5 linked regions of the Homo sapiens genome follow. The protein of the gene in region 3 purifies or fractionates together with the protein of the main gene of each other region. This does not show direct contact. Each region holds a gene or a part of one and is shown on either strand. Other genes may lie near its edges. The genes, in order: RCVRN, PUS7, CXXC4, TIA1 and ZNFX1.

Region 1 (5,791 bases), on a different chromosome or scaffold from region 3:
GTTGAAGTCCAATGTGTCTATTTGTTTTTCTTTTGCTGCCCGTGCTTTGGCATCAACGCCACCTGTGTGACTTTAATATGGGACCAAGGTTGAGAACATTGGAACTGAGGCAGAGGGGAAGGAGGTGAACCCTCCTCTGGAAACTGACAATACCTTGCCGAAGTCCAAATAAACTGAGTCTTTCTCCCATGTAGCATTTAGAGCTCAAATTCTTCCACAAGCACAGACTCAACTGATTCTCACAACTCTTAAGTGACAGGCAATGTAGGTGTGGCTGGCCCAGTTTTATTTTTTAAGGAGTGGTCATCCAGCTGGAGCCTAAGAGCCTGAGACACAGACATTTTTGGGCTTGTCTGATGAGTTTATATAACCATTAAGGGGCAGAAATGGGAGTGAAGTGGACAGCAGTACGGCGGCTGACCCCACTTGGCTCCATGGTCAGAGTCTGAGCCTGGTGAGAGAAGAGAAGCTTCAGACAAAAGCTAGGAGAGCTGTTTCCAGGAGGCAATGACAAAAGCTGTTTCCGTGACACATGCTACTTCCCATGGGGCTGTTCTGATAGACTCTAACCTAGAAGGCTCCTCAGCAGATCAGCACACAGCTTGGGTACATTAGGAGCACTGTGGCCTCGCCTGTGATTAGGAACGTAGTACTTGAGGGCAGCAATGGCACCTGGCACTAAGGGATCTATGGGTGAATCTGTGTGGGACACCTCCTGGAGATGCTAAAAATGCCCAAGAGACACTGCACAAGGGGCTGGGATCTTATGTGGGCAGGTGGCAACAGAAGCTCAGGCAGTTTGGATTATTGCTCTTAATGAGACCCATTTCTGCCCTTGAATTTACATGTACTTGAGGAGTCAGGGATCTAGAGACAGGAAATGACTTCCCCAAGGTCTCTATAGTAGACATCTATTTTTAGAATCTGCCCTTCTTATAGTACCCCAATTTTCCTCTTGGAAAAACCACTCATCTCCTACTGTCAGTCCACGGAACTTGAGTTGTCCTGACTCTATCCTCAGTTCAAGGATGGGCATAAAAATCTGCTGGCCAAGCAGAGCAGTACATCCTTCTGGCATCAGATATTGAGTCAGGCATGGGCATATAACTAACCAGAGACAGTGAGATGCAATCCTGACACTTTGGCTGGGACTCTTAAGAGAAAGCATTTTCTCTTTTCTGCTGAAATTGGAACCATGAAGAAGGCAGCCTGGATCTGCTGGTGACCGTCCTGCCAGCATGGGAAGAACCTGTCTGAGAATGGTGGTGACAGCAGAAACCAGAACCAGGAGAGGGAGAAATGAACTCTGGGACATTGTTGGAGCCCCTGGATTAAGCCATACCTGAAGCTAGCCCTACTCCTAGAATTTCAGCTATAAGAGCCAAGCAATTTCTATTTGTGCCACAATAATTTGTGCCAGGTCATCTACCTTTTGCATCTGGAAGAGTCTTGATGACATAGCTCATCACTATCTCCACCTCCTCTTCCCTGTGGCCAAGTTGAACTTCATGCTTTATTTTCCACAAAGTGTCATACAGCTGTAGAGAATCTCAGCCCAAGTGGTCCTTCCACCCTAAGCTAAAAAAAGAGGCACTAATTAGGTTTTCACTCTTTGGCTCTCCCATTGAACCACAAACCAGCAAGGACCTAATTATGCAGTGTCTGTCCTTTTAGACTCAAGTGACAATGATAGACTGACCTCAGAGAGAAGTGAAAAGCCCCCAGCCTCATCCTCGAAGCAACCAGATTCATTCATGGAGTGTGGTGGAAAGAGCATTGAGCCCTTTGGTTATATTCCTAGAACACTCTGGACTGGACCCACAGAGTCTTTTATCTCCCACTGAACTGGCTTCTATATAGCCCACTATGTCTACATGGGAGAATGCCTTGGGTAGATGATTCTAGTAATAATCCTTCTCCTCCCAGAACCTCTGGACTCATGCCTTGTAGCCTCCTTCCCCTTTCCATCTCTGACATTGTGCAATCCTAGAGTTCTCTATCCTGCTGTGTCCAGGTCAAAACTATTGGAGAAATCTGGTGTAATCAAAGGGACTCCAGTTTAAGTACCAACTCCTACTCACACTTCCTGCCCTCAGTATCCTCATCTGTATTGTGCAGATAATAACATCTCCATCAATGAAATAATGATGGCAGAGTCTAGCATGGTGCACGGTTCATAAGTGTTTATTCTCACGTTTGCTCTCCACACAGAGGAGTGCTCTTTGGCAGTGGTGATTGTGTCATCTCTGTGGCTAAAGTGGGGTCTGGAGGCATCACCACAATACCAGCAACTAGAGACTCCTCAGCCTCAAGAGGTTGCAGACAGGTCAGTCAAGAATCCAGGGTATCCATGCATTTTTCTGACCTCATCTTGGAACTTGAGGCTGGAGAATAAATGGGCCTTCAAAGCAACAAATCCAGGGATCTTGGAGAATGCACTGATGGAGTTCCTGGGTATCCCAGGCCCTGGAGCTTTGAGGAGGCAGTTGGGGGCCGGTGGGTAGCCCTTGCCTGACCTCTGCTCATCAGCTGGCTGCCCTTGGGCAAGCTGCTTCCTGTCATTGGGACTCCTTTTCCTTGTCTCTAAAACAAGGGGCTTTAGGGCCATCTATGGCTCTGCCTTCACCTCATACTATATTGAAGCTGAATTCATCATTGTTCCCTGAAACCCCAAAGACTCTCTGTATTTCTCATCTCCATAGATGGCATTGCTATTCACCCACTGCCCAAGCTACAGGCCTGGCTGCCATTCCTGCCCTCTCTCCTCCTGCCCCCTCAGCCAGCCAGGTGGATGCTACCTCCTAAATGTGTCCTCACTGGATCTGGTCCTCTCCATCCCATTGCCTTTCCCCTGGCCCAGGCCATCTGAGTGGCTGCAAAAGCTTATTCATCGGGCTCCCTGACTCCAGGGAGCCCCCAGTTGCTCCTCTCTGACTTATTTTAGCCTGCTGGGGACTTCTCTTACAAACATAAACCCCTCCTACTTCCAACTCCACAGTGGCACCGCTGTCCCCATGGTGAGCCCCCAAGTGCTTACCACAGGCTGCAGGGAGGGCTTTGCGTGGTCCAGCCCCCGCCTACCTTTTAGATTCAGCTCACACTTTGCTCTCCCTCCTCCTTCTACCCTCCAGCCACCCCGACCTTCTCCTGGAACTCGAGATGGTCATTCATGCCTCAGCGGCTCTGTGTTGGCCGCCTTCTGTTTGAGACTTCCCCACCCCGACCCCGTCCCCCGCCTCGTGTGCAGTGGTTCTGAATTTAAATCTCCCTTCGTCAGGGATGTGGTCCCTGATCCCCCCTGACAAGTCAGCCCCTTCCACTGTGTCCTCCCCTGGTGCTCTGCACGTTTCCATGGTAACCTGGGCCACTGGTCATGGCTCCTTCCAGGTTCATTGTCCCCTCTGGACCATGAGCTCCATGACAGCAGGACCGCATTAGACTCATTCCGCACCAAAGCAGCCCAGCCTAGGGCTGCCATCGCAACACAGCCTTGTCTTTGAGGTGTGACTGATAGAAATCATTTCCTTTTCCAGTTGAAGGATGACCAGCAGCCACGTGCCCAGCTCAGCTTGCGTTTATTGGAAACTGCTTACCCAGCACTCCACAAAGGAGCTTACAGCGGGGTGACACTTAGGACTCCTATGGCCTAATCCTGGGATTAGCACAGGGCCATGGGCTGGTGGACAGAGGGAGGGGTGGGACCGGGCATGATGGGAGGGAATGCTGAAGACCCAGGAAGAAGGAACCAGTGGGTCACTACAGATGCTTCAGTTTGGCAGGGAGCTGTGCTGTGGGCTTGTGTGCAGGCCTTTCTCTTGGCCCTGGGGTGGATGTGTGTGTGTGTGTGTGCGCGCGCGTGTGTGTGCATGTGTGTGTGTGTGCACAGGCGCTCACGGGTGTCATGTGAGTGGTAGGTGGAGGGAGGACAGCTGAACAGTTGGCATCAGGCGTTCTTCATCTTTTCCTTCACTTTTTGAGGCTCAAACTGGATCAGTCGCAGAATTTCCTTATTGGCCAGTGTCCCCTCAATGAATTCTTTCTCTGTAAGTTTATCTGTGCATTGGGAAAAAATATATACGTACATAAAACAGTCAGGATTGATAGCCAAGTGAGCTGCGATGAGGCTGACATCTAGCCAGTATCCCCAGTGTGAATGTATCTATTATAAGAATATTGAATACTCAGTGGCCCTGAGTATTCAATATTCCCCCACCCCAGTCCAGATACCCACCTCCTTTCCCATGACCCTTGGAGCTCCCTGCAGACCAGCAAAGAGCGGTGAATGACTGGCACTGGGGGGGCCCCCAAGATGCCAGTCTTGTGCTATGTGTCTCTTCCGATTGGCCGGTGCCCCTGCCTTGCTGGTTATTAAATACTTCAATAATTAATAACTATTAATTGTTATTCTATTTTCTATAGTAGCTCAAGTTTCAAGGATCAAGTTCAGGAGGAGCTTCTGGGGGTCTGAGCATAGCAAAACAATCTGGATGTCAGGCCCAGAGTCTCAGCTGAGAAGCAGGGAACAACATCCCTCCAGAAATAGGAGTGAGAAGTGAAGGGCCCAATGAGATCATGCCAGGGGGAGTGTGGCTTGCAGAGAGGTCTCTTTGGCACCTGCAGCACACAGGCAGCCCCATGATTCCTGGCTGACAACTCCGCCATGATCCCTTCCTATGCATCCATCCCTGCGTCCCCCAGTCTCATCTGCCTCCTTATTTGGGATCAGGACTGAGAGACAGCCTTGTTGCGCCCACACCTGGTTTTCCGGTGTTTTTAATCAGGTGGCTAACTGTATTCAGATCAGTCCAGTTAAATGCATGGTCCTGAGCCCAGATGCCACTGTGCTTGGAGCCAAGGCCACCACAGGGAGCGGAGGCGGGGTGTACAATAGAAGAGAGTGAGATGAAGTCCCTCCCTGGGAAACTGTTGACCTGGCGGGGAAGGCAGTCACACGCAGAAATACCTCTAGCATGAGACAGATGCTCCTTTCTGTTGTATGTTCACAGTGCCTAGCACAGAGTCGGTGCTCAACAAAGCTTTGCTGAACTGAATGTGATTTCTGACTTATGCTCTGGGCCTTTTGGATACCTTTAATCCCTTCTGGGTTAGGATCCAGGATGGCTTCCTCCGCAAGTCTGGGTGGTAAAATTTGGGTTTTAACATCCCAGCCACCCCACAGAGAGCTCACAGAGAGCTTGAAACTCCCACCATCAAAGCCTGACTCTGCCCTGAGGCATTGTCTCCAGATGGGCCGCGTGGAAACACGTACAACACATCACGAACAGGAGTAACACGTCGACCTCGGGGCTTCTGACGTCATCCCCTCCCGGGATGTTCACCAGGGAGGTTTTCAGATGAGCAAAAAGCAGAACACAGGGCTCGACACATGAACGGACCCAGAGGGAGGTCGCGAAGCCAGTTAAGGAGCCAGTGGGGCAAAGTGCCAAAAGAAGGCATCTTGGTAGCCAGTGTCTGTGCAAGGAGGAGAGAGTGCTCAAAGGTGAGGGGCCAATCCGGGCCGATGAGGGAAAGGTGGGTAAAGTACCAAGGCGCGAATTTAAGGAGGCGCTCACTTTCAGGTCCTGTGAGTGCATTGTTGACCCCTGAGAACGAGCGCCTCCTTAAATTCTGTGTCCTATGTTCCTCCTACCCCAATGACCTTCATGCTTCTCTTATTTCATCATTTGTTGGCAGATTAGGAGGAGCAGGGTCATCTCTCTCTGCCCTTATTTAGCATCCTGCTCAGCTTTTTCTTCTTGAACCTTGGCAGAAGACTGCCTCCAGAGGTCAC
Region 2 (6,065 bases), on a different chromosome or scaffold from region 3:
TCACTGCAACCTCAGCCTCCTGGGTTCAAGCGATTCTCCTGCCTCAGCCTCCGGAGTAGCTGGGATTACATGTGCACGCCACCATGCCCAGCTAATTTTTGTATTTTTATTTATTTATTTATTTATTTATTTATTTATTTATTTATTTTGAGACAGTCTCGCTCTGTCGCCCACATGTATTGCAGAGGCAGCACCTCCATCCACTCGTTAAGCATTCACCCAGCTTGAGGGCTGGAGATGTATTGCAGTGGCGCGATCTCGGCTCACTGCAGGCTCCGCCTCCCGGGTTCACGCCATTCTCCTGCCTCAGCCTCCCGAGTAGCTGGGACTACAGGCGCCCGCCACCACGCCCGGCTAATTTTTTATATTTTTAGTAGAGGCGGGGTTTCACTGTGTTAGCCAGGATGGTCTCGATTTCCTGACCTCATGATCTGCCCGCCTCTGCCTCCCAAAGTGCTGGGATTACAGGCGTGAGCCACCGCGCCCCGCCTAATTTTTGTATTTTTAGTAGAGACGGGGTTTCACCATGTTGGCCAGGCTGGTCTTGAACTTCAGACTTCAGGTGATCCACCCGCCTCAGCCTTCCGAAGTGCTGGGATTACAGGCGTGTGCCATCACACCCGGCCTTGAACGTGTCTTTTGATAGAGGCAGGGGCATGCATGTACTGTATTAATGAAGCAGCGTTTTTCCTTACCTAGGAGAGAGAGAGAACAATCCAGCTGGTCATACTGTCGACTAAGTTTGCTCCGGTTTCAGGTCCTTTACACGTGCTGTTCGGGCTGCCTGGAGCTCTCCTCACACACATCTTTTCCTGTCTGGTTCTTCCTTGTCTTTGCTCAGAAGTCTCCTCCTTAGACGAGGCATCACTGAAGAACACCCCTCTTACTCTCAGCCCCTTACCCTGTTTTAATTCTTTGGAGCTCGCATGTCCTGAGATTTATTTTGTTCTCAGATATATTCTCAAATACATTGTAAGCTACATGAGGACAGGAAATGGTATTACCCTTTTCTTCCAGTACCTACAACAATGCCAGACACATAGGACACTTGCTCAGTAAATATTTGCAGAATGAATGACCCTCATAGACTTAATGATTTTGCATATTAGAATGCAGTGTGTCTGCCGGGCCTGGTGACATCATGCCTGTAATCCCAGCACTCTGGGAGGCCGAGGCAGGCAGCTCGTTTGAGGTCAGGTCAGTAGTTTGAGACCATCCTGGCCAACATGGCGAAACCCCCTCTCTACTAAAAATACAAAAATTAGCTGGATGTGGTAATTTTAGCCCATGCCTGTAATCCCAGCTACTCGGGAGGCTGAGGTAGGAGAATCGCCGGAACGCTGGAAGTGGAGATTGCGGTGAGCCGAGACTGCACCACTGCACTCCAGCCTGGGCAACAGAGGAAAACTCCATCTCCAAAAAAAAAAAAATTAGTGTGTTCTCTGTGCTCTGGCCCTAAAGAAAATGCTCACTATTGTGAGAGCTATAGAGATTACTGATAATTTGCAGGGGATGGAGGAAAGATGTATTTACAAAGTGAAAGTTGTGGATAGTTTTGAAATATAATATGATAGAATTAAGACTAATGGCTGTTTTTGTAGGCTGGGCGCGGTGGCTCAGGCCTGTAATCCCAGCCCTTTGGGAGACCGAGGCGGGCGAATCATGAGGTCAGGAGTTCGAGACAATCTTGGATAACACGGTGAAAGCCCATCTCTATTAAAAATACAAAAAATTAGCCTGGTGTTGTGGCGGGCGCCTGTAATCCCAGCTACTCAGGAGGCTGAGGCAGGAGAATCTCGTGTACCCGGGAGGCAGAGGTTGCAGTGAGCCGAGATTGCGCCACTGCACTCCAGCCTGGGCAATAGAGTGAGACTCCGTCTCAAAAAATATACAAAATAAAATAAAAAATAATTCAAAAAAAGACTAATGGCTGTTTTTCTGATGTTTATTTTGGAGGAATTAATTAATAAGGGACTGTTTGGCCTGGGCGGTGGTGCACACCTGTAATCCCAGTTGAGGCAGGGCAGATCACTTGAGCTCAGGAGTTTGAGACTAGTGGGCAACATGGCAAAACCCTGTCTCTACAAAAAATACAAAAATTAACTGGGCATGGTGGCACATGCCTGTAGTCCCAGTTACTCGGGTGGCTGAAGTGGGAGGATCGCTTGAGCTGGGAGGTCGAGGCTGCATTGAACTGAGATCACGCCACTGCACTCCAGCCTGGGTGACAGAGTGAGACACTGTCTCAAAAAATAAATAAATAAACAAACAAGAGACTGTTGTTAGTGTTATATTAAAATTTTGAAAATGCTAAACTTAATTTTTGTTATAGGTGTAAAGGATTTTATTTTTTTTTTGAGACAGGGTCTTTCTGTCACCCAGGCTGAAGTGTAGTGGCACCATCACGGCTTACTGCAGCCTCAACGTCCTGGGCGCAGTGGATCTTCCCACCTCAGCCTCACAAGTAGCTGGGACTACAGGTGCATGCCACCTTGCCCGGCTTATTTTTATTTATTTTTTGAGACAGAGTCTCCCTCTGTCACCCAGGCTGGAGTGCAGTGGCGCAATCTCGGCTCACTGCGACTTCTGTCTCCCCAGTTCAAGCGATTCTCCTGTCTCAGCCTCCTGAGTAGCTGGGATTACAGGGCCACACCACCATGCATGGCTAATTTTTGGATTTTTAGTAGAAATGGGGTTTCGCCATGCTGGCCAGGCTGATTTCGAACTTTTGACCTTGTGATCTGCCCACCTCGGACTCCGAAAGTGCTGGGATTACAGGCATGAGACACCACACCCAGCTGCCTGGCTAATTTTTTAATTTTTTGCAGAGACATGGTCCCACTATGTTGTCCATGCTGGTCTCAAACTCCTGGTCTCAAGCCATCTACCTGCCTGCATTTTTTCAGAGATGAAGTCTCCCTCTGTTGCCCAGACTGGAGTGCAGTGGTGTGATCATAACTTACTGCAGCCTTAAACTGGTCTCACACAATCCTCCTGCCTCAGCCGCCCTGTTAGCTGGGACTACATGCACACATGCCCAGCTAAGAGTACTTCTTAAAGCTTAGTTGGTGAATCTAGTATTTTAATGAAAAGGGTTTTAAAATACTGTTAAAATTATAATATTTCTATTCTCAGTTGTCTCATTTGGAGTGCAGAGGAAACAAAAAACATTATTTTAGCATTCCCTCCAAAGAAATGTGAAGGATTGGCCAGGCGTGGTGGCTCATGCCTGTGATCCCAGCACTTTGGGAGGCCGAGGCAGGCAGATCACCTGAGGTCAGGAGTTCAAGACCAGCCTGGCCAACATGGTGAAAACCCGTCTCTACTAAAAATACAAAAATTAGCCAGGCGTGTTGGCGCATGCCTGTATGTACTCTCAGCTACTTGGGAGGCTGAGGCGGGAGGATCACTTGAACCCAGGAGGTGGAGGTTGCAGTGAGCAGAGATCACACCACTGTACTCCAGCCTGGGTAACAGGGTAAGACTCCATCGCCAAAAAAAGAAATGTGAAGGATTTTAAGTTTTGGGGAAAGTATCAGAGGAGTTCATTCTCTTCCTGGTTTAACATCAGGCTTCTGGTCTATGGGGTTTTACTTGACAATTAAGATACCATCATTACTATCATGGATAGTGTATTTGTGCAGCATGTTTTCTTAAAATTTTTTCTTTTAAATATGTCAAAAAATGCATAAAACTGCCCTCTCCCCCCTTTTCACATCTAGTAACTTTATATCTTCATTCAAGATAGAATGCTTGGGCTTTCCTGACTGCAAAACTGATTTCCTTGGGCCTCTCACCTTGGGGTAGTCAGGCTTGTTTTCTCTTTGCAATTTAATTCTCTCAGGCCTCTTCTATGTTCATAAGATCACCTCTCTCTCCTCTCCCCAACCCTCAATTTAAAAATTATATTCCAGTCCGGGCGCACTGGCTCACGCCTGTAATCCCAGGAACTTTGGGAGGTCGAGGTGGATGGATCACCTGAGATCAGGAGTTCGAGACCAGCCTGACCAACATGGTGAAACTCCGTCTCTACTAAAAACACAAAAATTAGCTGGGCGTGGTAGCGGGCGTCTGTAATTCCAGCTACTCAGGAAGCTGAGGCAGGAGAATCACTTGAACCCGGGAGGTGGAGGTTGCTGTGAGCCGAGATCAGCCAAGATCACGCCATTGCACTCCAGCCTGGGCAACAAGAGCAAAACTCCGTCTCAAAAAAAAAAAAATTCCATTTCAGCTTCCCTTTCACGTAGTTCCTGCTTGCGAAAATGACACTAGTTTGAGTTTTGCCTTTCCTAGTCCAGAGCTCTGAACAGTTCTTCTAGTAAATATGCTCTCCGCTTTTAGGCCTATAGGACAGAACTTAGAAAAATATATATTAAGTGATTTAAAAATCATTGGTACTATATATACTTTAATAATTAATTTGGGCCGGGTGCGGTGGCTCATGCCTGTAATCCCAGCACTTTGGGAGGCCAATGTGGGTGGATCACTTGAGGCCAGGAGTTTCAGACCAGCCTGGCCAACCTGGTAAAACCTGGTATCTACTAAAAATACTAAAATTAGGCCAGGCGTGGTGGCTCACGCCTGTAATCCCAGCACTTTACAAGTTTGAGGTGGGCGGATCACCAGGTCAGGAGTTTGAGACCAGCCTGACCAACATGGTGAAACCCCGTCTCTAGTAAAAATACAAAAAATTAGCTGGGCTTGGTGGCACGCGCCTGTAATCCCAGCTACTCAGGAGGCTGAGGCAGGAGAATCGTTTGAACCCAGGAAGCAGAGGTTGCAGTGAGCCAAGAACATGCCACTGCACTCCAGCCTGGGCAACAGAGTGAGACTCTGTCTCAAAATAAATAAATAAATAAATAAATAAATAAATAAAATAAAATAAAATACAAAACTTAGTCGGGCCCAGCTACTCAGGAGGCTGAGGCGTGAGAATTGCTTGAACTCAGGAGTTGGAGGTTGCAGTGAGCCGAGATTGTGCCACTGCACTCCAGCCTGGGTGACAGCAAGACTCTGTGTCAAAAAAAAATTAATTTGTCTATGATAGGGCCATTGACTTAAACAATGAAAAATGTAATTTCATTTGAAATTTAAAAGTGAGTTTAGTTTATTCTTGTCTTTTCAGTTAGATATATCAAGAAAAAGAGATCAGACAAATGTCCACAAATATCAAGAAAAAGACTGGCAACCTAAAGGCCTGTTGTCAACCTAAAATAATCAAAAACGTCAGAATCTAGTACAAAGAGAAATTATTCAAGTGCAAAGTTTGAGGATGTCCCACCTGGAAACACCAGTTCTAAAAAAATGGAGTCAAAGTTCTGAAGTAGGGAAGTTTAGGTTTTATATAGGCAGAGACAGGAGTTTTTAGCAGGATTACAACATTTTTCGTACAGGGTTTTCACATAGTTACAGCAATTTGATTGGTTATAGGCAGTGTTTCTTTTTGGGGAGAGTACATTGGGGAAGGTGTAATAGTTATGGGTTTTCTGTCATACGGTTTAAGCATAAGCAGGACACCAAAGGGAAAGTTCCTCTCTAACAAGGGTCATTAATTAAGAATTTTTAGTCATTGTAGGCCAGGCGCGGTGGCTCACGCCTGTAATCCCAGCACTTTGGGAGGCCAAGGCGGGCAGATCACGAGGTCAGGAGATCGAGACCATCCTGGCTGACACAGTGTAACCCAGTCTCAACTAAAAATACAAAAAATTAGCTAGGCGTGGTGGCGGGCGCCTGTAGTCCCAGCTACTCGGGAGGAGGCTGAGGCAGGAGAATGGCGTGAGCCCAGGAGGCGGAGCTTGCAGTGAGCCGAGATTGCGCCACTGCTCTCCAGCCTGGGGCACAAAGCGAGACTCCGTCTCAAAAAAAAAAAAATGAGAGAGAATTTTTAGTTATTATATGGAACAGGAAAAATGAAAGTAAGCTAATCTGTAATCTGAAAAACAAATTGTAACCATATGTGACTCAGATCATAGTCACATCTCTCTCAAGGCTTAAAAAGTGTTTTGGGGATTCCAACAGCTTTTAGATTCTGTTTTCTTTTCTTTTCTTTTCTTTTCTTTTTTTTG
Region 3 (6,065 bases):
ATTTTATATGAATATTTATGTTTCTCTTCAATAAAAAAGGGATAAAGTTAATACGGTTTCACTGACTGCTTTAAAATTAACCAGAACTTCAAAATTGTCCAACCACTTGGTCTGGGAAAGGCTGCTCATTGTTTTTCAATGGCTAATTACCAATGAACTCACCTAATGCTATGCTGTTGCATTCAATGGGAATTACTTGAGAAGAAGTTGAATTGTTGAACTTTTATACACACATATATATTCATATATATATACACACACATATTTATTTAGAGTCTATAACCATATATATTTATACATATATATACATGCAAATGAAATATGAACATATGACTATATAAATAAAATAATTTCAATCATTCTTGAAAGTATAGTATTGATTTTATTAACCCAATTTTTACTTTTTAAATCTTAATTTTACTTCTAATTTTCTTTCACATTCTCTCTTACACATAAGGTTAAGTATATAACATTGCTTTGATAAATACCTTTTAAATTTGTGAATTATTGAAAGATTTTCCTCTTTCTGCTTACCATGGTACCACCGTACTATGTTTTATTTTTATATGGGTAAGAACATTTTAACCACTAAAATACCCACTTATAATACACTAAATTTACTTATTTGTTAGAATGGTGTGGTTTGAAGTATTTTTACGAAATTTAACTGAAATATAATTATATACGCATAGCATTATCAAGAGACTTGCTTAACTAAAGTAGTTATATTAGACCTATGGCCAAAATGGGTACATTTTTTGGTCACTTCTGGACCAGTGTGAATCGTGGTGTTAATCTGTCATTTTACCTCCCACCAACCCACTCCCACCGTGTACACACATTCTCCTTTGGACAGCTGTTTTCATGACAGGCTTTATCACCATATGGACTTGACTTAGTGCCTTTACAACATAATGTATAAAGTCATCTTTCCATTTGCAGAAGTTAGCTAGGTTTACCTTCTAAAGTCACACCGTCACAGTCTAAAATCATGCTGTCACAGTGGTGATGGTAACTGTGGTGGTTGCAGTGTAGGAGTGCAAGGCAAAGAGAGCAACAGGAGCAACAGCCAAGGGAGAATCAATTATCAATGAAAAGGCCATCTCTAGTTCTCCATCATTAATCGGAGAAATCTTGGTCACAAATGTCAATTTGGAAACCAAAATATGGAATGTTTCTTAAAATCATATTTAAAGCCTCCAAAAGTTATGTCATAAAAATTACCTAGTTATTTGGTGCTTTCCCCTTTTTAAATAGGGGTCTAATATTCCAGTTAGTGGATGATGTTGAAAGTTGTTTTTAATTTATATTTGGATAAAGACCAAAATAAGGTGTGATTATACCAAAGACATACAGTTATGTAATAAATGAATCTGGATTATTAGAAAAATTAATCTGCTATACATTACAGACATAATATGGATTTATTACAACAGAGCAGAAGAAAAAAGTGAGGTGTAATTTAAAAAATGGAAACAAGTATATACTTATATTACTCCAAATATTTTTAAATTTAGATATTATTAATAAAATGTTTTGTTTATAATAGCAATAAATTATTGGACTGTGTGATAATCATTAATAGTTCTCTTATATTATTAGCCTATACTTTACTAGTGTTTTCTAATAACTCTATTATAGTTACTAGACTATGATTTCTAAAACCTATCATTTACAAAAGGAATATAGAAAAATCTTTCTGCTAAAAACTTGTGGGGGAGGTGTTCACCTTTGCTAGGTATTATTTTATATCATAATTATTAATTATTCAAAGATTCATATTACTATGTATTAATTTGTGTCAATCAGTTTGTTCACATTCACAATACTGTATACGTAATACAGTTTCCAATTTCTCCAAGTAGATTTTGAAATTTTGTTAGTAACATAATCAAGAACCTATATAACAATGTTTTAGCATTCTTCGTGAATCAAATCAGAAAAAAAAGGTAGTTTTTTTCACCATCAGCAACCTGCTTGCATTTGTTAATCCGGAAATTTCTAAAGTTTGAAAGTTTTATATGTAGCCACAAACAAAATCTATATAATTGAATAACTGAAGGCAAACAGTGGGGTCCATTATTATGTTTTGTCATATTTATTCACTTACTTTCTACTGCAAATTTTCAGTGATTCATTAAGATCTTTGCATTCTAGTGTGAAATGATAGACTTGAATGCAGTGGAGGTTTCCAGTATCAAGGCCTTAGATGCCGAGGAGTCTAAGAAACTTACAGTGGGACTCCTCATAGTGAAAACAATATTTCAAAAGGTTATACAGTAGGTGGTATTGGCTAACTACAGCCTGAAATTGCCTTAAGTTTGGTTGGGAAGAAAGCATGCTTCACGATTATATGGGAATCATAAAATGATTTCATGACTTTTGTTTCTTTAATAATAAATGGGAAAACAGGAAATTATTTTTGATTAGTATAGAAATAATGGTATCCCCAAATAGTGACCTTCAGTTGGAAATCATGAGAGCCATTTTGTTTCACAGTAGAATTTTGAAGGCCTAGGTGAGTCACTGAAATTTTTAGATTCGAAAGTATATGAATAAATATTGGAAAGATAGGTTTAACTTTAGTTATAGACATTTCTAGTATCATAATCATGATCTCAATTTAAAATTGTATTTAAGGTGAATTTCAGCATCAAAAGTTTTCATTAATTTCCTCTTTGAAACCTCAGGTCTAATATTATTAAAAGTTTTAAGTGCAGTTTTGTAAATATTGCTACATTTTACACACTGTACTTAGATATGAATGGCCAATCCACATATCCTCATATGTACAGAGTTAGAGATGCCCCATTTTCAGCTTTTAGGAGCTGATGTTTTATTAGACTTGACGTATTTCTAACAAGAATATGTAGATGCATTCTTCACCTGAAGATACCACTTTCCGTGTGACTGCTTCGCAGGTATGAGAAGAGAAACATGCTAAAATCCTTAAGGTGAAAGCTTTTCATATTCTTTATTATTTTAGGTTGTTTAATTATTTCATCACTGCAGATTTAATGAAAATCAAACTGAAATATATATATATCTGCCAGGAACATTATTAAATTTTAAATTTTTTTAAAAAGTAAATATAAAATGTACTTGGACTTAGGTTTTATCATTCTTTTATTCAAGGAAATTCCCTTAGTTTTAATGTAATTTAGGGAGAAACAGAAGACTCCTTTAGACTTGAAGATAGTGTTGTACCTGGTTTGTGTAGGGGTGAATTCTCTGGAACACTGTGCTTTACAGCAGTACCAGAAAGAGAACTGGGGCTGCAGGTTTCTCCACAGGCCTCCTGGGAGCAAGACGGCTGTTTGTCAGCGTTTGCACCTGCATGAACAGTGAAGGCTGCCTTAAACAATGCCGATCAACTCAATTCTATTCTTTACCTCCCCACCCCCTTCTCTTCAGGGGAATCTGGCTTTCCTGTCACTCAGGATAAAGATCCCCTGCAAGCATCACTGAGATCCAGAAAGTCACTGTAATCTCATCAAGAGTGTGAATCCCTAGCTGGGACTTTGAATTTATACAACCCAAAGGTGGCTGGTCAGGGTATTTAATCCCGCACATTGGTGTGCTGAGCCCCCGCACCATTTAAAAAGAAGTCTTCTTACAAGGATAACCTCATTAGTTGACAGAATGAAAAAATATGTGTCCTCAAATTAGTACAAACTTAGTTAGAAACCTGTAGTTTAACTCAATATTTTATCTATTAAAACATTGTTGCTTCACCCAGCTTGGCTGAAACAAACTCAATCAGTCCTAAAGTACATTTCCATTGTTCCTGATGAAAATTGGGCAGGAGATTAGATATACATCTATTTTGGGTAGGCTACAGGACCCTAAAGAGTTTTGACACTTTTAAAATCCTGAAATACAAATTTCTGGTGTGTGCCTTGATTATTTTCTAATTACTGCACCAGTAGTTTTCCTAATTTTTCTCACATATTTTATTTGGTGATTTCCCAACTAATCATTTTTAGGCTTCTTGACCTCAAGGATCTTAATATAAGGAAGAAATAATTTTTAAAAGAGGCTTCCCTGCTTACCTTCTCACTTCTCCTGCAATAAACTGTCCATATTCTTACATCTGGGGATGCATACTGGTCTCAATGTATGCATAGTAAAATCACGATGCACAGTAATATCAAGTAAGTGTAGAAAACCTTTTTTCTGCTTTTCTCGTGTTTGCATTGTTTAATTAATTTGTACTGCTAACAGGTATTGAGAAGTGATTATCTTTTTTTCCCACAACAATGACCTTTGACACTAAGTGGCATTTTATAAGCTTGCTTTTTCTAAATGTTGCAAATAAAATTGAGTAGCTGAAAGGGGCACAGGAAGAGCGAGAATTGGAAAAGAGATTTAAAAGTATATCTAAGACATAAGGACTTCATCTCATTTAAAAAATGTACTCCATATATTTTTGCTGTTTATCTTCGTAAACATATATGTTTATCAAGATACAAGATTACATAAGTATATATTTATAATCTTGTTTCCAGTTGGCATCTGAGAGTAAGTTGGCATCTCTGTGTCATACATATACACATAAATGTGAATATATATGAATATATATGCACATGTTTATTTTTCGTATGTGAATCTGTAACCATAGATCTATAATTGCATGAATATGCTTGGATCTAACTTATCTCGTTAGAAGTGACTACATTTATATAAGTGTGCATACTTATATAAAATTTATTCTTAGTTGGCATCAGCCAGTAAGTTAGCATCTGGTATAAACTTTTAAGTTTTCATTTATTGCTTTTGTGTGTGTATAAAGCATGAATATTAGAATGGGCATGTTCTATTTCTTATTACGTCATGTAGCTTCTTAATAATGATTAAATTAATGTAATCAATGTGTATAATTATTACATTTATCCAAAAGTTAATTTTAGAAAGTAGTAAAGAAGTTTTTCTCACCAATTAAATCAAATGATAGAGATTCAGGTATGCATAGTGAGCTGGAAAGGAGAAAACCAATGAAACCATCTTATAACAGGTTAATAAGATCAGTACAATTTCCATGAGAATAGTGAACTTTTTTGTTTGTGCTTTTAGAAAGCGCTGCTCAGGCAGATTTTGTTCTGTATACCTATATGCAGACTTGGAGTAGGAAGATAGTCATTTATCAATGATTTGTTCTCAACACAGTCATTTTGAAATTTATTGTGTTTGTGATGAGGACAGTCTTTTAAAAAATTATTTTAGTACAGATAGCGAAAAGCATGTTTGCTTTCCAAAATATTTATTTTATTGTTTTCTAGTTGACATCCTAATCAATTAATACTTTTATTATTAGATGACATAATTACAATAGGACAATGTCCACCAAATAACACGTGTGAGAAAGTAAATAAGAGCTAACCTCAATTATTAGAGGGTTTTTAGCAGAATTTTGTGTTTATTTTCTGAAATCCAAAAATCAAGTGCTATTAATGTTTTAAGATGCATTACAAGTAATGTGTGTGTATGTATGTGCTCTTGTGTTTTTGTTTACCTAGTAAATATATTGGCACTTACATTCAACACATCAATTTATATACTTATTTATCCTTAGCAGCCATCTTACGATTTATACAGGCTTGTTGGGCTAGTCTAAGGAATAAAGTCAACTTTCTTTTGCAGGAGAATGTATTCTTAGCTTGTTGTTTCTTGCATACCTTCACTGTATATTCATGTGATTGTTTTATGTATATCATTAGAATACATTTTAAGGAAGGATATGGCATGAGGAATTATTAGATGTTAATGTACATAGAAAATTCAAGCTTAACTACCATTTACCTAACAAGAAAACCTCATAGTAACTATAAGCTTTTTGTTAAAATGATTGCTTATACTTTGGTGCTAGCTTGATACTTCTTTGGAGAAACCATTTATAGTATGTTTACAATTCAATAGGGTAGTTATGCTTCATTGAATATCATTGGTTAGTAATCAATTTACTTTATATATATATTTGTTGAAAATACAAACTCACTTTGAAACAGTGATATATTTTATGAGTATGGTTCTCACTAGACTATAAAATGTGTTTAGAATTTAATGAT
Region 4 (6,065 bases), on a different chromosome or scaffold from region 3:
AGTTTTATTGTAAAGCCTATAAACATCATACATGTTTGCAGTAATGTTTTGATCGTTATCCTAAGATATGATTGAATGTGTTTGTGTTAATAAATTTAAGAACAAATCTAATCTTTGTCATCAGGTAGTACCGTTGTCAGCACACAGCGTTCACAAGGTAATTGTATCTTCTTAAACATAAAATGAAATCTCTTGAAAGGGTATTCACTAACCACCTGAAGTTTTTTTGTTTGATATTTGGGGGAGGGGGGCGGGAGGAGATATTATTTCTATTTGTCTCTCTAGCAATACTTTTCTCCCTTCTCAGTGTTGACCAAGTATAACTTGTCCGCTACTTTGGTGCTAGTTCAAGCTTTCTGACCCGTTTGGTAGCAGCTGATGCCTTAGAACTACTTTCACCAACTAAGGGGCAAAATACCCTCCTTTCTTGAGGTCACCATTTGGGCTTCATACCCAGATCTTCCAAATGCTTGAGTTGCTCCTCAAATTTTGTTTCCCAAAGAGCAATCCAAAATGTTGTTTAAGGCCTGTCAAATATGGGTAACTTTTCTTTCCAAATATGCTTTGTCAAATTGATGTATGTGTCCATTTTAAAGTGTTGGTCCAACAATTTTGCATTTTTAAAGTGTTTCTTTTTTTGATAATTGTCTTTTTTAAAAACTTCAGATATGGGTTGGTTATTTCTCTCCAATGCTTTTTTAATGGTTCTGATATAAAGTGAAGGGATTACTGTTTTCATTCTGTTGCCTTCAGTCTTAGTTCACTTGCACATGGATTCACATAAACTGAATGGTGTAATGTCTGGGCAACCAAAACTGTTGGCTTTTGAGAAAACTGTCAAATACTTTAACATCAAACTGTTGCAATGCAAGGTATTTCTTTGATTGTTCTTCACAAAATATGGTTAAACCAAGTATATATCATGTAGCTAGCTTCAGTAAATTGTGTTAACTGAGGCAAATCTAGTCTACATAATTCACAGTACCACTATTTTATTTTAATTTGTAAAGCCTTAATATAGTGGTAAACTGAATAAAAGTAAATAATTATTATTAGAATGGTAACTAAGTCATTAAATTTTTTTGCAGAACTGAAACTTGTATGTTATTAGTTTATTTTCTTAGACCAGTGTAATAATTGACTGTAAATAGAAATATAAATGTCACTTTACAGTTAGATGTATCACAGTCGTTTCAGGAGAATTTTTCCTATATTGTTACCTTGATTCATTGTTTAAAATTGGTAGGATTTGTATAGATATAGGATAGTGTTTTATTTATACTTTATCATAAGCCATAATCATTTTAAGAATACTTTATTGGATAGATTTTAGTACTTTTTAAATTCTAAAGTTCTATTTTTCTTTTCACTTCCCCTTCCTTCCCCTTATAAGATCATTTCCATGTCTTTGTTGGTGATCTCAGCCCAGAAATTACAACTGAAGATATAAAAGCTGCTTTTGCACCATTTGGAAGAATATCGTAAGTAACAGAAGATAAATAAAATCCTTTTAATTAGAAACAATTATATGTAGACATAACTTGAAAATAATTCTGTTGTGAATTTTGTACATTAATTTTATAACTTGAATATAATGTATTACATTGTTTAGAGATCATTCAAGAAGTTAACAGCAAAAGATTGTTTTCCCATTGATGAATAAACCTTTGGTTTTCAATTATCTTAAAATCCTTTTTCAATTAGCATAGCTCTTAAGAGACAAATTTGCCATTGTACATGTTTTACTTTCTTATATAGGTATCAAGCTAGCTTGGTGACAATCTTTAGTAAAATTGTGCTGTAACTAAGGAATTTAGATCTGTTGGGTACTTCTATGATACCATGCATTTTGTGTTAATATATTTTAACAAAAAGAAACCTTAACAATTCAACTTAAAAAGCAGTTATTGAATATTATTTTCTAGATATTTACACCCTTTTAAAAAAACTGCTAACAATAATAGTGCCTTAATAATATTTTATGAAGCACTGCCTTGCTTGCACTTGTTATTAGTCATACATTTTAGGCCCTTATGAATAAATACCTTACTTGAGATAGCATTCATCATAGAAGAACTTTAAAATTTTGAAAAGCATGCCATATTAGAGTAAGAATAACAAGTTGTTTACAGTACTTTCTGTAGAGTAATTAGCTTAGAAAACTTCTTCAGGGTTTCTGCTTGCTCTGTTATTTTTCCACCTAGAAGAATAGTAAAAAGGAAGTGCTAGCTGTGGTTTGGTTTGAACAGACCAACAGCAGAGATGAGATGAGGAGACTGGAAAGTAAATGCCAGTAGTATTGGTGAATTTTAGGAGCTTTCGTTTGAAGAGTTATCGTTCCTTGATTAGGGGATGTGACCAAGGAATTACCAACTTTAAAGGTGGTCACAGAATTAGGGCTTATAAATGGACTTCTTTCAGATGACATTTTTCTTTGTGAGACCTGATCAGGAAAATAAGTACAGCTTTCATTTCTTGATTGTCCTTCTTAATAATATCTTAGAGTTTCAATAATAATTAGCTTGCTTTCGAATATCTGGACTTAGACAGTCTTAGCCTTTGGCCTCTCAAGGGCTCTAAATCTCTATGCACAATTTTGTGTTTTCATTTTGGTGTGGAAAATCTTTGTAAATTTTATCCTATTGTCAGAGTAGTCATAGAACCATAAAAGGATAAAGAAGCCTGATCTAGATCTTTGCTGCTGCTTCAGAGAATCTTTTCAGAGAGAAATAAATGAGTTGAATATTTTTCAAGACTAACATTTTCTGAAACTTTAAGAAGAAAAAATTTTCTAACATTGTGAACAGATTAAGTAGCTATTTTATTAAATGCTTTGATTTTAATTGAGGTAGTTTTTTTGAAAACACGGGAATTTTAGTTTGGAATTAGGCAAAGATTGTTTAACAGTTGGTGAGTTTAAGTTAAGTGACCTTCAGATTTTAGCAATTTCATGATTTACAAATCGTGGGTTATATTTTTTTCTCTTAAATATATTTCTGTGTCATATTTTTAGTCTGTAGATTTTCTTATGGTCCCATGATTATTGGTGTATACTTTTTTTTTCTTGGTAAGACCTTTAAGTTTTATGATTTTCAATTGAGATAATGTATAATGTTTGAGTTTTAGGCTATATAAGGAATTAGCTTTCCTGCATTTAAAGGAATCATTTGGCAGTCAGTAGCATATTTTCCTGATTTTTTGTTGTTGTTAAAGGAGATAAGTTGATAACTGTATGTTGAAGGGTTCTCATGATATTCTCTAAAAAGTGCAAATATCAGTGCTTGATTTATAGATGTGTAATAAACAGTGGTCTGTAAAAGCATGTAGTATAAAAAATATGGTATTTTCCCTTATATACAGCCTATAAACTCTTCCTATTCCTTGAGTTTAGGGTAGACTAACAAATTACAGCGTAGAAGAGAGTCAGCTACCAGATTAAATGCATGCGTACCATACAGATAATTTATTAAGTATTTTTGCATATTGAACATTGACTTACATTAATTTTCCCTTTTCACCACCACGTCTTTGTCATTTTGACCCTGAACACTTAATAAATCACTCAGATTGATCTAAAATATGCTTATGTATACTTTAATAGAAAATTACATTGCATGGCTTTCTGACTTGGGTTTTTGTTATAAAAGTGCCTGTTTTGTTCATGTGTCCTGAGAGAGCAAGCATTGTGACATACCTGACTAACTTAAAAGCAGATTGCCTGTGAAGCACAATTTGAGTCCAATTTTTTGAGGTATGGAGTTTTAGCTATCATGGCTGGGTTTTTACTCAATCTCAAATAATAGGGCTCTGGTTATTTTGCAGAGTGTCTCTGAAGAATGGACAGAATTGCCCTGGCTAACTACAAGCTACGGTTCACAGTGGATAAATGTTGGCGTGCTTTTTTACTTTCTGACTTTTTAAAATTTTGCTTTTATATCTTGTAGTTCCAATCAATTTTATATGAATGCTATTATAAAATTCAGTGTAAAATCTTTTCTTGTCTAGCTTAAAACTTGTGTGTGTCTAGTATTTTTCTTCAATGATTTAACATTTCTGAAAATGTCAAGTTCTCAAAATTTAGACAAAAAGGGGGGTATAAATTGATCTGAAAAAATTAAATAGTTTAATTAGTTTAGGGAATATACAACTTTTTCATTCTTTTGGTTTCCAGTTTTCTATTTTTTTTTAATGATTAGGTAGAATATAGTGTCAAATAAGTTATAAATTGCATGGTTAAAGAAAGCCATTCATCTAATGTCCTGTGAACTTTATAAGTGGTTAAGTAGTTCATGTGAGTAGCTGCTTTCACCATGCTTAATATTTAAAAGTTTAAAAAGTTTTTTGAAGAGAGAGGCAATTTCTGTACAATATAAATATACATATATACTTAAGTTATTGATTTGCATGTCTATAAAATTAAGCCTCATTTCCTAATACATGATAAATTTTGTAGAATAAAAGGTGAATTTGCATTAAAGGTTCACTTTAATGAAGGTGAAACATGAGAATGAGTTGTGTGTGAAATTCTTATTTGATATCCAGAGGATAGTTTGCAAACCTAAACTTCTGATTGTTTCTGATTTCAGAGATGCCCGAGTGGTAAAAGACATGGCAACAGGAAAGTCTAAGGGATATGGCTTTGTCTCCTTTTTCAACAAATGGGTGAGCTCAGTGAGAAGTGCATGGATAATGCTTAAAGAGTAAAGAATGGAAACACTCCGTTTTAATTACTAATCTTTTTTTCGTCTGCTGTTTATTTTACTGATGATTAAAATAAACCCTCACTAGAAGATTTCTTCTGTTTTGTCTGTTTAACATTTATTGGCACCTGAGGCATGCAGAGTACTGATAAGATGTTTTCAGAATGTAGAAAGTAAAGTTGTTTAAATTATCAGCCAAAGGTAGATGTTGAAAATCTCATTTATGGATTTAATTCATTATCTCCCTAGTTTATATTCCCATGGTAGTTTAAAAGTAGCTAATAAAATACTGTGAGGAGGCCGGACGCAGTGGCTCACACCTGTAATCCCAACACTTTGGGAGGCTGAGGCGGGTGGATCACCTGAGGTCAGGACTTTGAGAACAGCCAGGTCAACCTGGTGAAACCCTGTTTCTACTAAAAATACAAAAATTATCCGGGCGTGGTGGCAGGCGCCTGTAGTCCCAGCTACTCGGGAAGCTGAGGCAGGAGGATCACTTGAACCCAGGAGGCACAGGTTGCAGTGAGCCGAGATCATGCCACAGCACAGCCTGGGCGACAGAGTGAGACCCTGTCTCAAAAAATAAATAAATAAATAAAAATACTGTGATGGATAGGAACTTTTTAAAAAATTAAATATTACCCGGGCACAGTGGTTTATGCCTATAACCTCAGCACTTTGGGAGGCTGAGAAGTTTGAGATAAATACTGGCAATATAGTGGGACCCTATCTCTACAAAATATATATATTTTTTATTTTACTTTTTTTTTAATTTTTTTTTTTCCGGGAATTCCGAAAATTCAGCCGAGCCCAGTGGCTCACACCTGTAATCCCAGCACTTTGGGATGCCAAGGTGGGCGGATCACTTGAGGTCAGGAGTTCAAGACCAACCTGGACAACATGGCAAAACCCCATCTCTACAAAAAATTAGCCAGGCATGGCGACACATGCCTGTAGTCCCAGCTACTTGCAGGGCTGAGGCGGGAGGATCACTTAAATCCAGGAGGCCAAAGCTGCAGTGAGTCATGATCAAGCCACTGTACTCCAGCCTGGGTGACAAAGTGAGGCCCTGTCTCAAGAAAAAAAAAGTTGAAAATTGTAAAGTACATTGAGAGGTGAAAACAATACAAGCTCAATCATGTACATGTCCCATCTACCAAAGATTTTTTTTTTCCTGTAAGATGAGAAAATAAAAATTAAGAGAATTTATTTGGTTCTCAAAACTTTACTATTAAGCATAGCATAATGTTTTAGAAAGGTAGAAAAATACCTTCTATAATGGATTGATAGCCGTGATTAATTTGAGTTCCTTAGAGGATTGATTCATAGGTTTTAGGATGTTTTAGTGCAAGTTAGGGAAATAAA
Region 5 (6,065 bases), on a different chromosome or scaffold from region 3:
AGACATGCCCACAGCCCAGGCGGAACTCGCAGGGCAGGCTGCAGCCTCCTTCGGGTACTTTTTGGAAGTCAGAAGCTTTGGATACTAAGGTGTGGGTTTCAGGGTGGTTCTGGCAGCAGAGCCGGAGCATGGGGCCTATTTGATTGTTCTCTCGAAGTGTATGAATGATCTTGCTCCACAGGGGCACCTTGGCCAGCATCTGCATGTTTCCGATGCAGTACATTCCCTTCTTGGCTCGGGACAAGGCCACACAGATGCGGTTGGATATCTGCAGAAAACCCACCTTGCCTTCTTGGTTGCTCCGCACTAGCGAGAGGAGGATGATGTCATTCTCTTCCCCTTGGTATTTGTCCACAACATGGACCCTGACGCCAGCAAATGTCTTGGCAGGCATCAGTTTGCGCAGGCAGAAGAGCTGCCCGGTATAGGTAGTGAGGATGGTGATCTGGGAAGGCAGGTATTCCTGGCACAGGAAGTACTTGCACAGCTCTACCACAAAGTGAGCCTCATGCTGGTTCTGATGGCTTTTGCCCTCTTGGATTTCCTGTTCAGGAAAGTTGTGTTCTACAAAGAAAAGGTTGGAAGACACCCCCTGACAGGGAAAAGAAGTGACATGTTAAAAGGTTCACTCATGGCACTTGTTTTTTTCTTCCTCTCTTGACATGCACTGGCCACTTACTCTGCTCCAGAGAGAGACCTTGGAAAGCTTTTTGTCCACTCAACATCACTATCTTTAGTTCTTTAGTTAGTCATTGTGTGCTTCATTTTGGGGCCACAGCAAGTTATGAAAATAAAAGATTATGTCTCTTTCAGTTTTCAAGATACTTGTTTGATGTTAATATTTAAAAAAGCTGGCTGGGTACAGTGGCTCACGTCTGTAATCCCAGCACTTTGAGAGGCCGAGGTGGGTGGATCACCTGAGGTCAGGAGTTTGAGACCAGCCTGGCCCACATGGTGAAACCCCGTCTCTACTAAAAATACAAAAATTAGCTGGGCGTGGTAGTGGGCGCCTATAATCCCAGCTATTCAGGAGGCTGAGATGGGAGAATAGTTTGAACCCAGGATGCAGAGATTGCAGTGAGCCGAGATCATGCCACTGCACTCCAGCCTGGGTGACAGACAGAGTGAGACTCCATCTCAAAAAAAATAGAAAATAAAACAGCCATCCACAATCCAACCATTATAGCTGAAAGAACAAGCAGTGCTGTGAGGAGGATGATGATAATGACAGAGCAGCTAACTTACTGAGCACTCCACTGTGCTGACTGCTTTATATACATTACCTCCTTCCATACAGTAATGGGATATGGCAGGAGCCATTATTCTTATTGTCCAGAAGAACCTGATACTCAGAATTTATTTATTTATTTTAAAAAAAGAGACAGTCTTGCTATGTGCCCCAGCCTGGTTTTGAACTCTTGGCCTCAGCTGACAATTTTTTTTTTTTGAGACAGAGTTCACTCTTGTTGCGTAGGCTGAAGTACAGTGGCACGGTCTTGTTGGCTCACCACAACCTCCACTTCCCAGGTTCAAGCGATCCTCTCGCCTCAGCCTCCCAAGTAGCTGGGATTACAGGCGCCCACCACCATGCCCAGTTAATTTTTGTATTTTTAGTAGAGACGGGGTTTCACCATGTTGGCCAGGCTAGTCTCCAACTCCTGACCTCAGGTGATCCACCCATCTTGGCCTCCGAAAGTGCTGAGATTATAGGCATGAGCCACCACACCCAGCCAGGCACATGCCACCGCACCCAGCTAATTTTTGTATTTTTAGTAGAGATGGGATTTCACCATGTTGGCCAGGATGGTCTTGATCCCTTGACCTTGTGATTCGCCCGCCTCGGCCTCACAAAGCTCTGGGATTACAGGCGTAAGCCACCGCGCCTGGCCAGAATTCTTATATAACTTGCTTAAGGTTACATGGCTAACAGGCAGAATTGGGATTAAAAAACCCTGGTCTGTATTTCAATTTTCTCCCAGTAACCAGCTTTTAAAAAGCTGGCTCTACTCCCTTCTGAAGGCTTTCTTTTTTTTTTTGACAGGGAGTCTCTCTCCGCTGCCCAGCCTGGAGTGCAGTAGCATGGCACGATCTCAGCTCACTGCAACCTCCACCTCCTGGGTTCAAGCAATTCTCCCACCTCAGCCTTCTGAGTAGCTGGGATTACAGGTGCTTGCCACCATGCTCAGCTAGTTTTTGTATTTTAGTAGAGACAGGGTTTCACCATGTTAGTTAGGCTGGTCTCGAACTCTGACCTCAAGTGATCTGCCCACCTCAGCTTCCCAAAGTGCTGGGATTACAGGTGTGAGCCACCGCGCCTGGCCGCTGAAAAGCTTTTTTATCTTGAGGAAATTATAGCCTTTTTAGGTTGCTGACACCATCCAAGAAAGATCGGGTAAGACAGACTCACCTTAATCTTCTCATACTTAAGAACAGATGGATGATTCTCCAGATCCTGGTAAATGTGGGGGGTCAAAAGGCGGGCAATTTCAGGGCACATACGGTGCTGAAAAAACACATGCATGTCATTAGAAACATGGGCAGAGCACACACGGACAATTTCTTTAAAGATAAGGTTGCTGTTAGAAAATTTAGGGAGGGCCAGTTGTGATGGCTTGTATCTGTAATCCCATCACTTTGGGAAGCCAAGGCAGGAGGATCACTTCAGGTCAGGATTTCAAGACCAGCCTGGCAACATAGTGAGCCCTCATCTCTATTTTTCTTTCTTTTTTTTTTTTTTTTGAGACGTGTCACCAAGGCTGGGGTGCAGTGGCGCAATCTCAGCTCATTGCAACCTCTGCCTCCCAGGTTCTAGTGATTCTCCTGCCTCAGCCTTCCAAAAGTAGCTGGGACTACAGGCATGAGGCACCACGCCTGGCTAATTTTTTGTATTTTTAGCAGAGACAGTGTTTCGCCATGTTGGCGAGGCTGGTCACGAGCTCCTGAACTCAAGGGATCCGCCCGCCTTGGCCTCCCAAAGTGCTAGGATTAAGGTGTGAGCCACCACACCTGGCCTCTATTTTTCTTTTCTTTTTTTTTTTTCTGAGACAGAATCTAGCTCTATTGCCAGGCTGGAGTACAGTGGCATGATCTCGGCTCACTGCAACCACCGCCTCCCAGGTTCAAGCAATTCTCCTGCCTCAGCCTCCTGAGTAGCTGGGATTACAGGTGCCCACCACCATGCCCGGCTAATTTTTGCATTTTTAGTAGAGACAGGCTTTCACCATGTTGGCCAGGCTGGTCTCGAACTCCTGACCTCAGGTGATCTGCCCACCTTGGCCTCCCAAAGTGCTGGGATTGCAGGTGTGAGCCACCGCACCTGGCCTCTATTTTTCTTAAAAAAAAAAAGGAAAGAAAATCTAGAGAGATAGAGATTATCATTTGAAAAAAATAAGGAGAAAGCATAACATAAACAGCTCCTTTGTCCAACAAAAACTCAACACGGTGATCTTGTGGTGTTTTAAAACAGAAAATGTAAGGTTGACAGAGTCATTTCAGTATTAAATTATTTTTATTTATATGAGACCTCTTTTGCTGGCAACTGGCAGCTTCCCAGGAGCTTTCTCCTGGGCATTTGGTAACAACAGAGGCCCAGCTTCTCACCTGGTAATTCAGACGGACAAAGGGAATGTTTACTTTCACTAGCCGTTCAAAAAGGGACACCTCAAGGTTGAAGTTCTTGGCCAGATCATACACGTTGGCACTGGGGCGCAGCTGAGAAGAGAAACATGGCTGAGGATTCTCTACTGATAAAGTCATTTAACCATCCATACTTCCATCCATCCAACCAACCATCAAATGTTTTTCAAGTGTTGACTATGTGCCAGGCACTATTCTACATACTCACAGTTTAAGGATTAATAATGACAAGGGTTAAGGATTAGTAGAACTAAAGGTGATATGACAGAGTGCCCCATGGTGGGTTTTTTCTAGCTAGGCCTCTGAACAGTGACATCTGAGTAGACACTAGCATGGCAGAAGTTGCCAGTTCTTCAGTCATTTGAAAAGCAAGATCCATAATGGGGAGCGGAAAGGACACAGTGGGACACCAAGAGCAAATGGGATGAAGTCAGAGAAATAAGCTGAAACCTGATCACATAAGCCTTTGTGGGCCACTTTAAGAAGCTTGATTTTTATGCAAGTGCAATGGGACACCACTGGAGGGTTTTCAGCTGGAAAGTGATATTATCTATCTACCTTTTTTTTAAAAAAATTCACTTTGGCTCCTTTATGTAGAGTGCATTAAAAGGTAGCAAAAATGGAAGCAGAGAGACTGAGGAGCATGCTATTACAATACAGTCCACTCAAGAGGCCATGGTGGACTAGGTAAATAGCAGAGGGAATGGATGAAATAAATGACGTTGCCACTAAAATATACCCCAAATCTAATAGCATCTGCTCTTAGACTGAACGTGGGAGGTGAAGACAAGAGGAATCACAAGAAGCTACTAATAAGCTTGAGGACTGTTGAAGCAGAGGCCAGGGTCTTCCTTTATGATCTCACCCCCACGGAGAGCCAGCCCATCTTCTAGGGGGACTCTCGTTTTACCTGCTGGTGGTCCCCAATCAAAATGAGGTGCTGGCAAGCTTTGCTCAATGTGGCAATGGTATGGGCCTCAAGGACTTCCGCAGCTTCTTCCACTATGACAATCCTCGGCTCCACCTTCTGTAGGATCTGGCGGTATTTGGCAGCACCTCAAGTGAGGAAAGAAGAGAAAGGCTCCTCTGAGCTGAGGCACAGGACCCACAGGGCCACTGGGCCTCTGGGAATCCACTTCTGTATCTTCCCTGAACCTGCATCAGCGACAGCTGGTCCTTATAGTGTTCTGGGTGGTCTCCAGAACATTAAAACTGTGTTGGTCACTGTTGGAGTTTCAAACCCAGCAGGAGAAAGTGAGTGAATTTCTTTTTTCTTTTTTTTTTTTTCTTTGAGACAGTCTCACTCTGTCACCCAGGCTGGAGTGCAGTGGTGCGATCTCAGCTGACTGCAACCTCCACCTCCCAGGTTCAAGTGATTCTTGTGCCCCAGCCTCCCGAGTAGCCAGGATTACAGGCACCCACCACTACACCCAGCTAATTTTTGTATTTTTAGTAGAGATGAGATTTCACCATGTTGGCCAGGCTGATTGCAAACTTATGACCTCAGGTGATCCACCTGCCTTGGCCTCCCAAAGTGTTGGGATTATAGGCGTGAGCCACTGCGCCTGGCGAAAGTGAGTGAATTTCACCAAGAGTTCTCAAAATATGGGTGCTTTCAGTAGCTTTTCATGGTATTTTCCTCTAACCTACCAAAGAAGCTCCTCTTTACCTGTCCTTAGATAATCTGGCACCAGAAGTGAACTTAGATGCAACAGGCAAATTTCTCCACAGTTTCTTACCTGTGGTTGTCATTCCTACAACCTGGGCATCTTTAAGAATGTGCAGGTCTTCCTGGAGTCTCAGCTCGGCCATTCTTTCTGCTGATGTGCGGTACTGGCGTTCATAGCTGAGGATCTTCCGGCGGGTGTCAGCCTGGTACAACTGTAGCCAGAGCCTGGAGAATGGGAAGAACCAAGGAAAGAAAGCCACATGCTCTTTGAGAAGGTGGAAGAACGCCCTTCAGTGTGCCCAGTGTATGAAGTGAACCTTGGACCCTTGGAGCATAGTGACAAACAGAGAGATACATTCAGGGACCTAAGAATCCAAAATGCCCAACAAAAAGATGTGCAGAGTAGTCAGGAGCTAAGGAAAGGGGTGAGATAAAGAACAAAGGTTAACTATGGGAAGAAAATAAGAGACTTTAAAAACTTTGGGAAGAATTCTCCCAGCTGCAGCATCCCTGCCTAATTTCCCTCCCCTCCTCTAATTCTCCATAGAGTATTTATTTTATTAGTAAAACTGATGATGTCACTAATCGCTGTAAAACTTTCCAACGGCTTTCTACTACTTTTTTTTTTTTTTTTTTAAAAGACGGAGTCTTGCTCTGTCACCCAGGCTGGAGTGCAATGGCGTGATCTTGGCTCACTACAACCTCCACCTCCGGGTTCAAGCGATTCTCCTGCCTCAGCCTCCCGAGTAGCTGGGATTAT

Evidence for each region.
Region 1: the proteins of CXXC4 (region 3) and RCVRN purify together in Homo sapiens (affinity purification with mass spectrometry, with the first as the bait; one large-scale study listed by BioGRID). This does not show direct contact.
Region 2: the proteins of CXXC4 (region 3) and PUS7 purify together in Homo sapiens (affinity purification with mass spectrometry, with the first as the bait; one large-scale study listed by BioGRID). This does not show direct contact.
Region 4: the proteins of CXXC4 (region 3) and TIA1 purify together in Homo sapiens (affinity purification with mass spectrometry, with the first as the bait; one large-scale study listed by BioGRID). This does not show direct contact.
Region 5: the proteins of CXXC4 (region 3) and ZNFX1 purify together in Homo sapiens (affinity purification with mass spectrometry, with the first as the bait; one large-scale study listed by BioGRID). This does not show direct contact.

Annotation. Positions count from the first base shown.
Region 1 is NC_000017.11:9,894,152-9,899,942, forward strand, and holds the end of RCVRN (recoverin), read right to left. Parts: intron 4,054-5,791; coding exon 3,944-4,053; 3' UTR 2,169-3,943; downstream 1-2,168. UniProt on the Homo sapiens protein: Acts as a calcium sensor and regulates phototransduction of cone and rod photoreceptor cells. Modulates light sensitivity of cone photoreceptor in dark and dim conditions.
Region 2 is NC_000007.14:105,514,603-105,520,667, reverse strand, and holds part of PUS7 (pseudouridylate synthase 7 homolog), read left to right. Parts: intron 1-6,065. UniProt on the Homo sapiens protein: Pseudouridylate synthase that catalyzes pseudouridylation of RNAs.
Region 3 is NC_000004.12:104,473,177-104,479,241, reverse strand, and holds part of CXXC4 (CXXC-type zinc finger protein 4), read left to right. Parts: intron 1-6,065.
Region 4 is NC_000002.12:70,223,151-70,229,215, reverse strand, and holds part of TIA1 (cytotoxic granule associated RNA binding protein TIA1), read left to right. Parts: intron 1-14; exon of another isoform or gene 15-124; coding exon 125-157; exon of another isoform or gene 158-753; coding exon of another isoform or gene 754-872; exon of another isoform or gene 873-1,393; coding exon 1,394-1,481; exon of another isoform or gene 1,482-3,822; coding exon of another isoform or gene 3,823-3,859; exon of another isoform or gene 3,860-4,488; coding exon of another isoform or gene 4,489-4,586; coding exon 4,587-4,662; coding exon of another isoform or gene 4,663-4,704; exon of another isoform or gene 4,705-4,792; intron 4,793-6,065. UniProt on the Homo sapiens protein: RNA-binding protein involved in the regulation of alternative pre-RNA splicing and mRNA translation by binding to uridine-rich (U-rich) RNA sequences.
Region 5 is NC_000020.11:49,249,120-49,255,184, forward strand, and holds part of ZNFX1 (NFX1-type zinc finger-containing protein 1), read right to left. Parts: intron 5,531-6,065; coding exon 5,376-5,530; intron 4,693-5,375; coding exon 4,547-4,692; intron 3,712-4,546; coding exon 3,601-3,711; intron 2,504-3,600; coding exon 2,408-2,503; intron 593-2,407; coding exon 1-592.